2 separate regions of the Homo sapiens genome follow, and region 2 is linked to region 1. The links come from fine-mapping of genetic effects on plasma protein levels. Region 1 holds a variant in brackets. A gene starts in the other region. All regions are shown on their forward strands.

What was found. PIP is the chance, under the fine-mapping model, that this variant and not a neighbour inherited with it causes the effect. The UK Biobank Pharma Proteomics Project read protein levels with antibody pairs (Olink). The fine-mapping took linkage between variants from a reference panel, not from the people measured, so its PIPs are less certain.
Region 2: IL27 starts here. The variant in region 1 is fine-mapped to the plasma level of the IL27 protein (UK Biobank, PIP above 0.99).

What each region holds. Positions count from the first base shown.
Region 1 is chr4:38,794,272-38,799,796 of GRCh38, forward strand. It overlaps TLR1 (toll like receptor 1), which reads right to left. Exons shown (of 4, transcript NM_003263.4): 4 at 1,984-4,627. The coding sequence starts at 4,560. The coding sequence ends at 2,200. Among named protein-coding and RNA genes, the nearest start is that of TLR1, 7.8 kb to the right of the region's middle. The variant C/A (reference allele first, on the strand shown) is at 2,756.
Region 2 is chr16:28,502,225-28,507,224 of GRCh38, forward strand. It overlaps IL27 (interleukin 27), which reads right to left and starts at 4,610. Exons shown (of 5, transcript NM_145659.3): 1 at 4,557-4,610; 2 at 1,654-1,826; 3 at 1,471-1,569. The coding sequence starts at 4,587.

The DNA of each region.
Region 1 (5,525 bases):
CAATTCCATTACAGAACAATAGTTCTCCTATTTTTAGCATACATTTCATGGTTTGAATTTGCCTCCCACTATTATGCTTCAAAGAAGTTTAAATAATGACTTTCCTCTATTTTCAAGCTCTAACTCCGTGGTTTGACTTTCAAGATCCTTGACAATATAGTCTTAATATAACTTTCCACACTCCTATCCTACTGTTGTTTTTCATGAACCTCACGGTCCAGTCAAACTGGGATACCAGTCCAAGAATAGGCCTGGGTATACCTGCCTTTGCTCTCTTTATCTTTCTGTTTAGAATGGCCTTTCCATTCTTCATCATTACACATTGAAAAATCCAAAGTTAAAGTCTTCCTTCAAGACCTAATGGAAAAAAAAAAAAAAAGACACATCATTTCTAAGATTTTTTTTCACTCAATTTAAGCAACCTCTGAACTTCCATTTTATAGCTTTGTTTCATTGATTTTTATTTTAGTTATTTGGATATGTTTAGTGTTCTCTGATTGACTGTAAGTTCTTTAGGCCAAGAAGCTAATAGATATGTATGTGTTAGTTGGGTTCCTTCCCACTCAAAAAAGTAGAGACTGAGATGAGAGCTTTGTGGGCTGGTCATTTGTAGGCTTTTTGGTTTTTGTTGCTTTTTATTTTATTTATTTTTTCTAGACTCCTTGAGTTAAGGAAAGGTCGCTTGTTTGGAGCAGCGATCTCAGGACTCAAGAGTGACCCGAATGAGAAGAGTGACCAAGGAAGAATGGAAAGTCAATGCAAAACCAAGTTACTGAGCTGGTTACCCTGTGGGTAAGTAAACCTCAGTGCCACTAGGGATTGTCTGAGAAAAGGTATCAATTACACCTCATTTTTTAACCCAAGAATAGAAGAAAGGAGCATGTATATAATGCTTCCCATCCCGTAGTGTTATCCCTTGTGCTTCCAGGTTTGTGCATGTATCAGAATGGTAGAACAGGCTTCTACAAGCATCCCACGCAGTGGTATCAGTGAAGTCATGGGGCATAAAGTGAAAGATACATGGTGTAGTTATGACAAGGTTTTTGTCAAGACTACACCTGCCCAGAGCTGGCTGCTGGAGTAAAAATGTAGACTGACAGGATGTTTGATGGGTATGAAAAGCATCAGATATATCCATTCCTTACACTGCCCCATCTGCTCATGCTCTACTTTAATAGTTCCCCAAAGAGACAGATGCTATATATAGAAGCACCGTATATCAACTATATTCTTCCTTCTAATCAAAAGAGCAAAGGCTCTTGTGCATGTTAGTTCATACAACCAGAATCTCAGCGAGATCTCCAGTCATGGAAAACTAGACTCAGAATTTTCATTTGGACTGAGGTGGAACACTTTCTTGGTCTGGGCTCCCTCATAAGCAGCCCCTGAGACAAATATTCAGTGGCAAGTAGTTTATCACAGAGGTGATCCCATGGAATACACATGGAGGAATAAGTAAGTGAGAAAAAAATGGGAAGGAAGCCAGTCGAGAATACTTAATCAAGCCATTTCTACTGTGGACAACCAGAATTTTATCCTACTGGGGAACTCAGGGAGAGTGTAAAGTATACCCCATTTTTTGATTTATCTCAAAAAATGAGTGAGAAAGTTGGGATATTTATCCACCAGCTCTTTCTGACATTGGTTGAGGGCTGTTTCCAAGGACAATTTCCAGCACTTCTGAACTGCCCTTTGTGTGGGCATGATGGTGGGGGGTTGGGGAGGAACCTTCAGGCATAGTGTCTCCAGCTTTATCAACGAGCAGCCATCAATAAGTTGAGTTGAATGCACCATGGATATGAGGAAAGCATCAAAAGCTGTAGAAATCTGCTATACAAACCCAGCTATATTCACAAAAGTCACGGCATTTTCCAATATTGGCCATGATACACTAGAACACACATCACTGAAGAAAAACAGGTGCTTCCCTTGACTTCATGATAAATTCAGAACTCAGTTATAGCAAAGAAACAAGTGGATCCCTTATGTGTCAGAACTGTTTAAATCAAAGTTATATCATTTCATTAATTTTTAATACCACATATAAATGGTGAACTGCGACCCGAAGGTATATATTTTTACCTACATCATACACTCACAATTGTGTTTACATCTATGCTGATGCAAAATAAAGTCATTGTTGGAACTTCCAAAAGCAGCAATATCAACAGGAGGAATATTTTTCACTTGATGTGTAATCTATTTCTTTGCTTGCTCTGTCAGCTTAATATTAATGGCTGCCCTTAAGTTAGCCCAAAAAAGGCCACGTTTGCTCTTTTCCTTGGGCCATTCCAAATAAGTCCTCCTGGCCATGAGACTTTTGAGCTTGTGATAACTGCTAGGAATGGAGTACTGCGGAATGGGTTCCAGCAAGATCAGGATTAAGCTATTAGATCCTTCATGAAAGAGATTGTGATGGGCAAAGTAGAGTTCATAATGGCACCATTCACTCTGGACAAAGTTGGGAGACAAAACAAAGATGGACTTGTAACTCTTCTCAATGCAGGTGATGATATTTTCCACAATGCTCTTGCCAGGAACAAAGTTTCTCTCATGAAGGCAAATCTGCATACCTTCTTTCTCTAGGTTTGGCAATAATTCATTCTTCACCCAGAAAGAATCGTGCCCACTATATGAAATAAATGCATGAAACTGGAGATTTCTTTGGAGTTCTTCTAAGGGTATGTTCCTGGCCCTGCGCCGGGTCTGGGTCCACTGGCACACCATCCTGAGATACCAGGGCAGATCCAAGTAG[C/A]TGCAGAGGGAGGTCACAGTCACAGCCAACACCAGCATGGTGGCAACGATGGTGACGATCAGCAGAGTTATGTTGCAGGATAATTCAGACATGTGAAAGTCCTTTAGTAGGGTTCCTCTATAACTTTCCGGGTAGTCACACTTATAAGAATCAGGCCAGCCCTCTAACACTTCACTTGATACTTGGTCTATATTTTTGACAAATTCTCCTAGCTCACAGGTACATTGGAATGGATTGTCCCCTGCTTTTATTGACCTCATCTTCTGGCAGCTCTGGAAGAAATCAGCCGATGGGTGGGAAACTGAATTGTGATCAATGATCAATACAGAAAGGCTGCTAAAGCTGCCACATCCAGGAAGGTCAGTTAAAGAATTGAAAGCAACATTGAGTTCTTGCAAAGCTTCCAGTTTTACGACTTGTTTAGGAATGCTCTTTATTTTATTGCTGTGAAGATCAAGTACCTTGATCCTGGGAGGTAAACATCTGAAAATAGTGTCAGTAAGTATATTTGAAGACATATTTAAACTTAATAAACTTTTAGTCCAAGAACAGTCTCCTTTCTTTTCATCATAGCTTACAGAATTCTGGCTAATATCCAATTGTTGCAGAGACTTCATCTGTGTAGTCATTTCAGCTATTTTTGAAAGTTCTTTTAATTGATTCATTTGTAAAATAAGTGTCTCCAACTCAGTAAGGTGCCCACAATTTTCAAAAACCGTGTCTGTTAAGAGATTATTGGAAAAATCCAAATGCAGGAACGGGCTAATTTTGGATGGGCAAAGCATGTGGACCATGCGTGTACCAGACACTGTGAAATTTTTGATGTTCATATTCGAAAAGATTTCATAGATATAACTTTGCGGAAAACCGAACACATCGCTGACAACTTGGTGTATAGACAAGGCCTTCAAGGAAGTGCCAGAATAATCAAAATCTCTGAAGTCCAGCTGACCCTGTAGCTTCACGTTTGAAATTGAGAAATACCATACAGTTGTATGCCAAACCAGCTGGAGGATCCTAATGAAAGAATTCCAAGTTGTTTCAATGTTGTTTAAGGTAAGATTTGATAACTTTGGATTTGTTTGAAGTTTCGCCAGAATACTTAGGAAGTAAGAACATTTGTTATCTTCTAGCACACATTTGATATTAGATAGTTCCAGATTTGCTACAGTCTTGACTGACACATCCAAAATAAAATGGAATTCTTTGTTTGTGGGGAACACAATGTGCAGACTCTCAGTGTTAAAGTCTTGAAGGCCCTCAGGGTCTTCTTTTTCCCCATAAGTCTCTCCTAAGACCAGCAAGACCTTGCTGATATTCAAATGAGCAATTGGCAGCACACTAGATTTTTCTAAGTGTGTGGTGCTCAACCCCAGAAATTTTAGTTGAGACATATTGCCAAACTCTTTGCATATAGGCAGGGCATCAAATGCATTAAATGACAGGTCCAAGTGCTTGAGGTTCACAGTAGGGTGGCAAGAAATCTTCACCAACTTGTTGTGGGACAAATCCAAGTATTCCAATTCCTGGTTGAATTTGAAAACACTGATATCAAGATACTGGATTCTATTATGAGAAATTATCAAAATCCTCAGTTTTGACAGTGATAAGATGTCAGAAGTCCAAAGCTCAGATATATAATTTTGCGATATATTTAAGATTGTTGTTTTCTGGGATAGGTCTTTAGGAACGTGGATGAGACCGTTTTTTGACCTATCAACTAAAAATTCACTTTCTTCAGATAATTGTATTCTGATCTGAAGTATTAACATGAAGATAATGGCAAAATGGAAGATGCTAGTCATTTTGGAACACTAGACATTCCTAAAGGTAGAAGCTGTTCTTCAGATCATCTTGATACAGATACAGATTCTAGAAAAAAAATAATGAAATGATGAAATACATTACATACATTTTTAAAATACACGAAATTAGTCATGGCTGACATTAAACTTTTTTTTGTTACAGACTTATAAAGTGGAGGCTACATTCTTTTGGGTTACATGGCCTAAAACTAGAGAAGTATATATATTGGTAAATAATGATGCCAGCTCTAATCAAATAAGTTTTAATATGGATGGTGTAATAGGTTGAATGGTGGCTCACCAAAAGATATGTCTACATCTTAACCATGTCCTAATCCCCAGAAACCATGAATGTTACCTTCCTTAGAAAAGGGGTCTTTGCAGAGATAATAAAGTTAAGGATCTTGAGATGAGGAGATCATCCCAAATTATCCAGGTGGTCCATAAATCCAATGACAAGTGCTTTTTTAAGAGAAAGGCAGAGGGATATTTGACAAAGAGACAAGAGAAGAGGCAATTGAGACACAGAGGAGAAGGCCTTGTGACAGTGGAGGCAGAGACTGGAGTGCAGCAGCTACAAGGCAAGGAACATCAACAGGCGCCAGAAGCTAGAGGAGGCTCTGGAGTGATGGTGGCCCTGCTGACACCTTGAGTTTCGACTTCTGCTCTCCAGAACGTTGAGGGCAAAGCCACCACGTTTATGATCATCTGTTACAGCAGCCTCAGGAAACTAATACAGGTGGGTTCATAGAAAGTTTTCTGGCCCCAAGCTTCCCAAAATTATTTAGAACTCCAGCTAAGACTCAACTGGTGTACTTTCACTCTTTGACGTACATCTCCCCATGACTTTCTCAAGAGGTGTTCCTAATGGTGGTATTGGGACTGCTCTTCTATTACCCTTTATGACCTATACACGGTTTGGGTCTAACTTTGGTCTTACTCAAAAGGTAATTAGATCCTGATAA
Region 2 (5,000 bases), not on the chromosome of region 1:
TCCACGCTCCAGCCTCCAGTCCATCCCTGTAGCTCTTCCCCCACCTCAGCCCAGCTGTGTCCCCATTCCTTCCATCTCCACTGTCTGGGACATTTGTCCCATCTCCTTTTCCAGCCTCCCTTTCACTCCTATGCCAATGATCTTCTCTAACCCACCCCCTCTCAGTCCCTGAAGCACTCTCCATCCACAGCCCTGTTCCCTTCCCTCCTCCACCATCCCATCATACCTCCTGCCCATGTGTTTCCATCCCATCTTCAGCCTCATTCCCATTCCTAACCCCAACTCCATCCTTCCTCCATGTGCCCAGACTCACTCTTTCCATCTTTCCATCCCATCTCCAACCTCATTCCTAACCCTATTCCATTCCCTTCCCCACCAGCAATCCCCATCCCTTCTCCATCCCATGCTTAACGTTCACCCTCATCATCACCTTCTCATCTCTAACTATCCGCATTCTCACCCCCAGTGCCACCTCCACCCACCCTCCATGCTGCTGTGATCTGTCTCCAGCCTCATTCCAGTCCCATGCCTGCCGCGTTCCATGCCTAGCTCCACTCTTACCTCTTCCCAACCCCACTTCCTTATTCCAGCTTCATCTTTATTGTTGGTTTGTTTTGAGATGGAGTCTCGCTCTGTTGCCCAGGCTGGAGTGCAGTGGCGCGATCTCATCTCACTGCAACCTCCACCTCCTGGGTTCAAGTAATTCTCCTGCCTCAGCCTCCCGAGTAGCTGGGATTACAGGCGCACAGCACCATACCCGGCTAATTTGGTATTTTTAGTAGAGGTGGGGTTTCTTCATGTTGGTCAGGCTGGTCTCGAACTCCTGACCTCAGGTGATCCACCCACATCAGCCTCCCACAGTGCTGGGATTACAGTCGTGAGCCACTGCGCTCAGCTAATTTTTGTATTTTTTAGTAGAGATGGGGTTTCGCCATGTTGGCCAGGCTGGTCTTGAACTCTTGACCTCAGGTGATCCGTGCTCCTCAGCCTCCCAACGTGCTGGGATTACAGGCATGAGCCACCACGCCTGGCAGTTTATTTATTTTTCTGAGACAGGGTTTCCCTCTGTTCTCCATCCTGGAGTCCAGGATCATAACTCACTGCAGCCTCCAACTCCTGAGCTCAAGCAATCCTCCCATGTCAGCCTCCTGAGTAGCTGGGACCAAAGGTGTACACCACCATGCCTGGCTAACTCTTAAATTTTTTTTTGTAGAGACAAAGTTTCACTATGTTGCCCAGACTGGTCTTGAACTCCTGGCCTCAAGCAGTCCTTCCACCTGGGCCTCCCAAAGTGCTGGGTTTATAGGTGTAAGTCACCATGCCTGTCTTTCATCTCTATGTCCAATGACATATTCAGCCTTATCCAGGTTCTATCCCCAATGCATCTCCAGCTCAATCTCCAGCCTCATCTTGCACCCTGGCCCCAGCCTATCACAAGCTTCCCGCCCCACTCCACCAGCCCTCACTCACAGAGAGGCGGCGCCAGGCCTGGAAGGTCAGGGAAACATCAGGGAGCTGCTCTCCCAGGGGCAGGAGGTACAGGTTCACTCCTGGCAGGTGAGATTCCGCCTGGGGGGCAAGGTCTGTTAGTGGGGGCCAGAAGGGATTGGGGGTCTGCCCATCTCCAGCGCCAGCTGCATTAGGGGGACTTACAAAGCGGTGGGCCTGGCCCCGAACCTCGGAGAGCAGCTTCCTGGCGAGATGCAGGCTGACTGTGAACTCCCTCCGCAGCTCCTGCAGGCTCAGCTGGGGCCTCCCTGGGGGCCTTGGGAATCCCCAGACACCAGCTTGAACCAGGAGCAAGGGAAGCAGCAACAGGCTGAGCCCTGGAGAGATGGGAAGAGGGTGGCAAGACAGGGAGAGAGCTTGAGAAGGAAGGGAACATGCCTTTTCTGAGCCTGTGCTAGCTGTGAGCACGGTGCAGGCACTTTGACCAGCATCATTCCTCTGCCTCCTCAAAACCACAATGGAGGCTGGGTGCGGTGACTCACACCTGTAATCCCAACAATTTAGGAGACCGAGGCGGGCGGATCACCTGAGGCCAGGAGTTCAAGACCAGCCTGGCCAACATGGCGAAACCCTGTCTCTACTAAAAATACAAAAATTAGTTGGGCGTGGTGGTGCATGCCTGTAATCCCAGCTACTCAGGAGGTTGAGGCAGGAGAATCGCTTGAACCTGGGAGGCAGAGGCTGCAGTGAGCTAACACCACTGTGCTCCAGCCTGGGCGACAGAGCCAGACTCTGTCTCAAAAAAACAAAACAAAACAAAACAAAACAAAACCCCACGATGCAGCCAGCACGGCCCCCATATGGCATCTCCGCATGGTGTGCCCACTTTTGCAAAAAGACCAGAAGCCTGATCCTTTTTTTTTTTTTTTGAAACAGAGTTCTGTTCTATCACCCAGCCTGGAGTGTAGTGGTGTGATCACAGCTCACTGTAGCCTTGAACTCCTAGGCTCAAGTGATCCTCTCGCCTCAGCCTCCCAAGTAGCTGGGATCACAGGGACACACCACTGTGCCTAACTGTTTCTATTTTTTTGTAGAGACAGGGTCTCACTATGTTGCCCAGGCTGGTCTTGAACTCCTGGCCTCAAGAGATCTTCCCGCCTCAGCCTCCCAAATTGCTGGGATCACAGGCATGAGCCACTGTGCCGGGACAGAGACTGGATTTTGACCCCCATAAACTCCCTTGGCCAAATGCCTTTTTCAGTGAGCAACCTGCACAACCACGTGTGGCAGCCTCAGTGCTATTGTTCTCCCCAATTTGCAGGTGAGGCTCAGTGAGGTTGACTTGCCCAAGGTCAAATAGCCAGAAGGTGGGAAGCCAGGACTGGATTCCAGGTTTTTCCAAATGCAGAGCCCATGGGTTTTCCCCAGAGAATGCAGAGGGAGGCAGCCATCTGCCCCAGGAGTGGGCACACCATGTTCTGGCAAGGATTCTTTGGGCTCAGCCAAGCGGCTCTGATGGCTTGAACTGGCCATGAGGTCCCCAGGGATGGGCTGGCAATGCCAGAGGCTCTATTCCAGGGAGTCAAAAGGACAGGTTTGTCCAGTTTCCACCACGGCAGGTGGATCCTAGCAGGGTAACCTGCCTGGGGCGAATCCACAGTATGGGAGCTTTTTTTTTTTTAAGACAGATTCTCACTCTGTCACCCAGGCTGCAGTGCAGTGGCGCGATCTCGACTCACTGCAACCTTCACCTCCCAGGTTAAAGCAATTCTCCTGCCTCAGCCTCCTGAGTAGCCACCACGCCTGGCTAATTTTTATTATATTTAGTAGAGAGGGGTTTTGCCGTGTTGGCCAGGCTGGTCTCCAACTCCTGACCTCAGGTGATCCGCCTGCCTTGGCCTCCCAAAGTGCTGGGATTACAGACATCAGCCACTGCGCCCAGCCCAGAATGGCTGAATTCCGAGTGTGCTTCCTGACCTGTGTTTTCCTGGAAAGAGGGGCAGCGGATGGGCGCTCTAGGAAGAGGGCAGCATTCATCAATTTCCCCCTCAGGGAGAGGAAATCTAGCAAGCACAAGAGTTACACAATTCTCCTCGAAACACAAACCAAAACTGGCCCGAAGTCCATCCTGCTCTCCCTTCTCTCCCTGCCTCTTCCCTGTCCTCTCTCAATCTCTAACCCCTGGGCTCTGCTCTTCGAAATGTCCCCTGATAAAGGTGAAGGGGAGCTTCTAGGGACATCTACCTCCCTCGTGGGCTTGCAGATGTGGTGGGCGATGCCTAACGTAAGATCTCTGGCATTCAGACTCCCTGGTTTTGGGGCCACTCGGACCCTCTGACATCCTGGAGACTTAAGGCAGAGTGGGGTTCTTCCTAGCTCAATGTTGGGGACAGGGTGGGTGCCCCCAGGCCCTGGTGGATCAAGCCCAACCGTAAGTGAGCTGTGCCATCTCCAACCTGACCTCTGGAGACCCCAGACCCCCTCCTTACCCTCTGCAGCTGATCCTGGGTCATTGGCTCTGGCCTTTGAAGGCTCTGTCTCCATCCTCCAGCCTTTGGTCCCTACCTGCCCTACGTGGCATGTTACCTTCTCCACTGCCTACTGCTCTGGTTCTAGCCCCTGAGTTCTGCAGCCACCAGCCGCAGATTGGACCTCTTTCCAACATCAAACTAAAGACCTTTGACCCAGTGAGGCTGCTGACATCTTGGTCCCAGTGCTCCACTTGTGCCAGCACCTCGTTCTGCTCTTCCTCCAGCCGGCCCCATTCTCAGTCTTAGCCAAGCTGTTTGGCTTCTGCTTATTCACTCCAAACTCTTCATTTATCTGCCTAGACCTGGTCCTTGTCAAATTGCTGGTCCAACCCTCCCCATTCCCACTAGCCAAGGCCTCCTTCTCATCCTCTGCCCAGCCCTGGGTCAGACCACCACCCCACTGCCCCAGGCCCCCACCCAGTCATGCCAGCCTCCCTTCCCATGCAGCAGCCAGCCGAATCCTCAGTCTTGGCCAAGTTGCTGCTCTCAGCTCTCGACCCCCCATCTGCACCAGCCAAGCTCGTCCATTCTCTGCCCAAACTCAACCAAGCCCCCCACCCCTGGCTTCAAACTCACGCCAGCCAAGGTCGCCTGCCGTCTGGCCCATGGCGGGGCCCAGCCTCTTTGGTCAGCCATCTCCTGGGTAGGGGGGGTCTTATACTGGGGGCTGTGCCCGGTTTCACTTTCCGTCCTGCTTGTACTTTCAGCTTTGTGTTCACTCATTCTTCCCTCTCGCCACCCCTTGCTAAAATGGGGAAATGTAATTTCCCTTCCCGGAGGGGGTGGGAGGTATGATGGGGGGTGACGGGAAGCTGGGGTTTCGGGACATCCAAGCTCCAGACTCACTGCTAAGCTCCCACGTCCAGCCCTGTCCTCAATGTCCCATGCTTGGGTGAGCCATCCAGCCCTATTCACTGGTTGATCCCAGAGTCCCAAACCCCCTCCTGATTCTCGGCTCTGCCACCATCATCCTAGGGTCTACTGTCCTTCCAAAGATGGATAGCCAGGTAAGGGGATTGC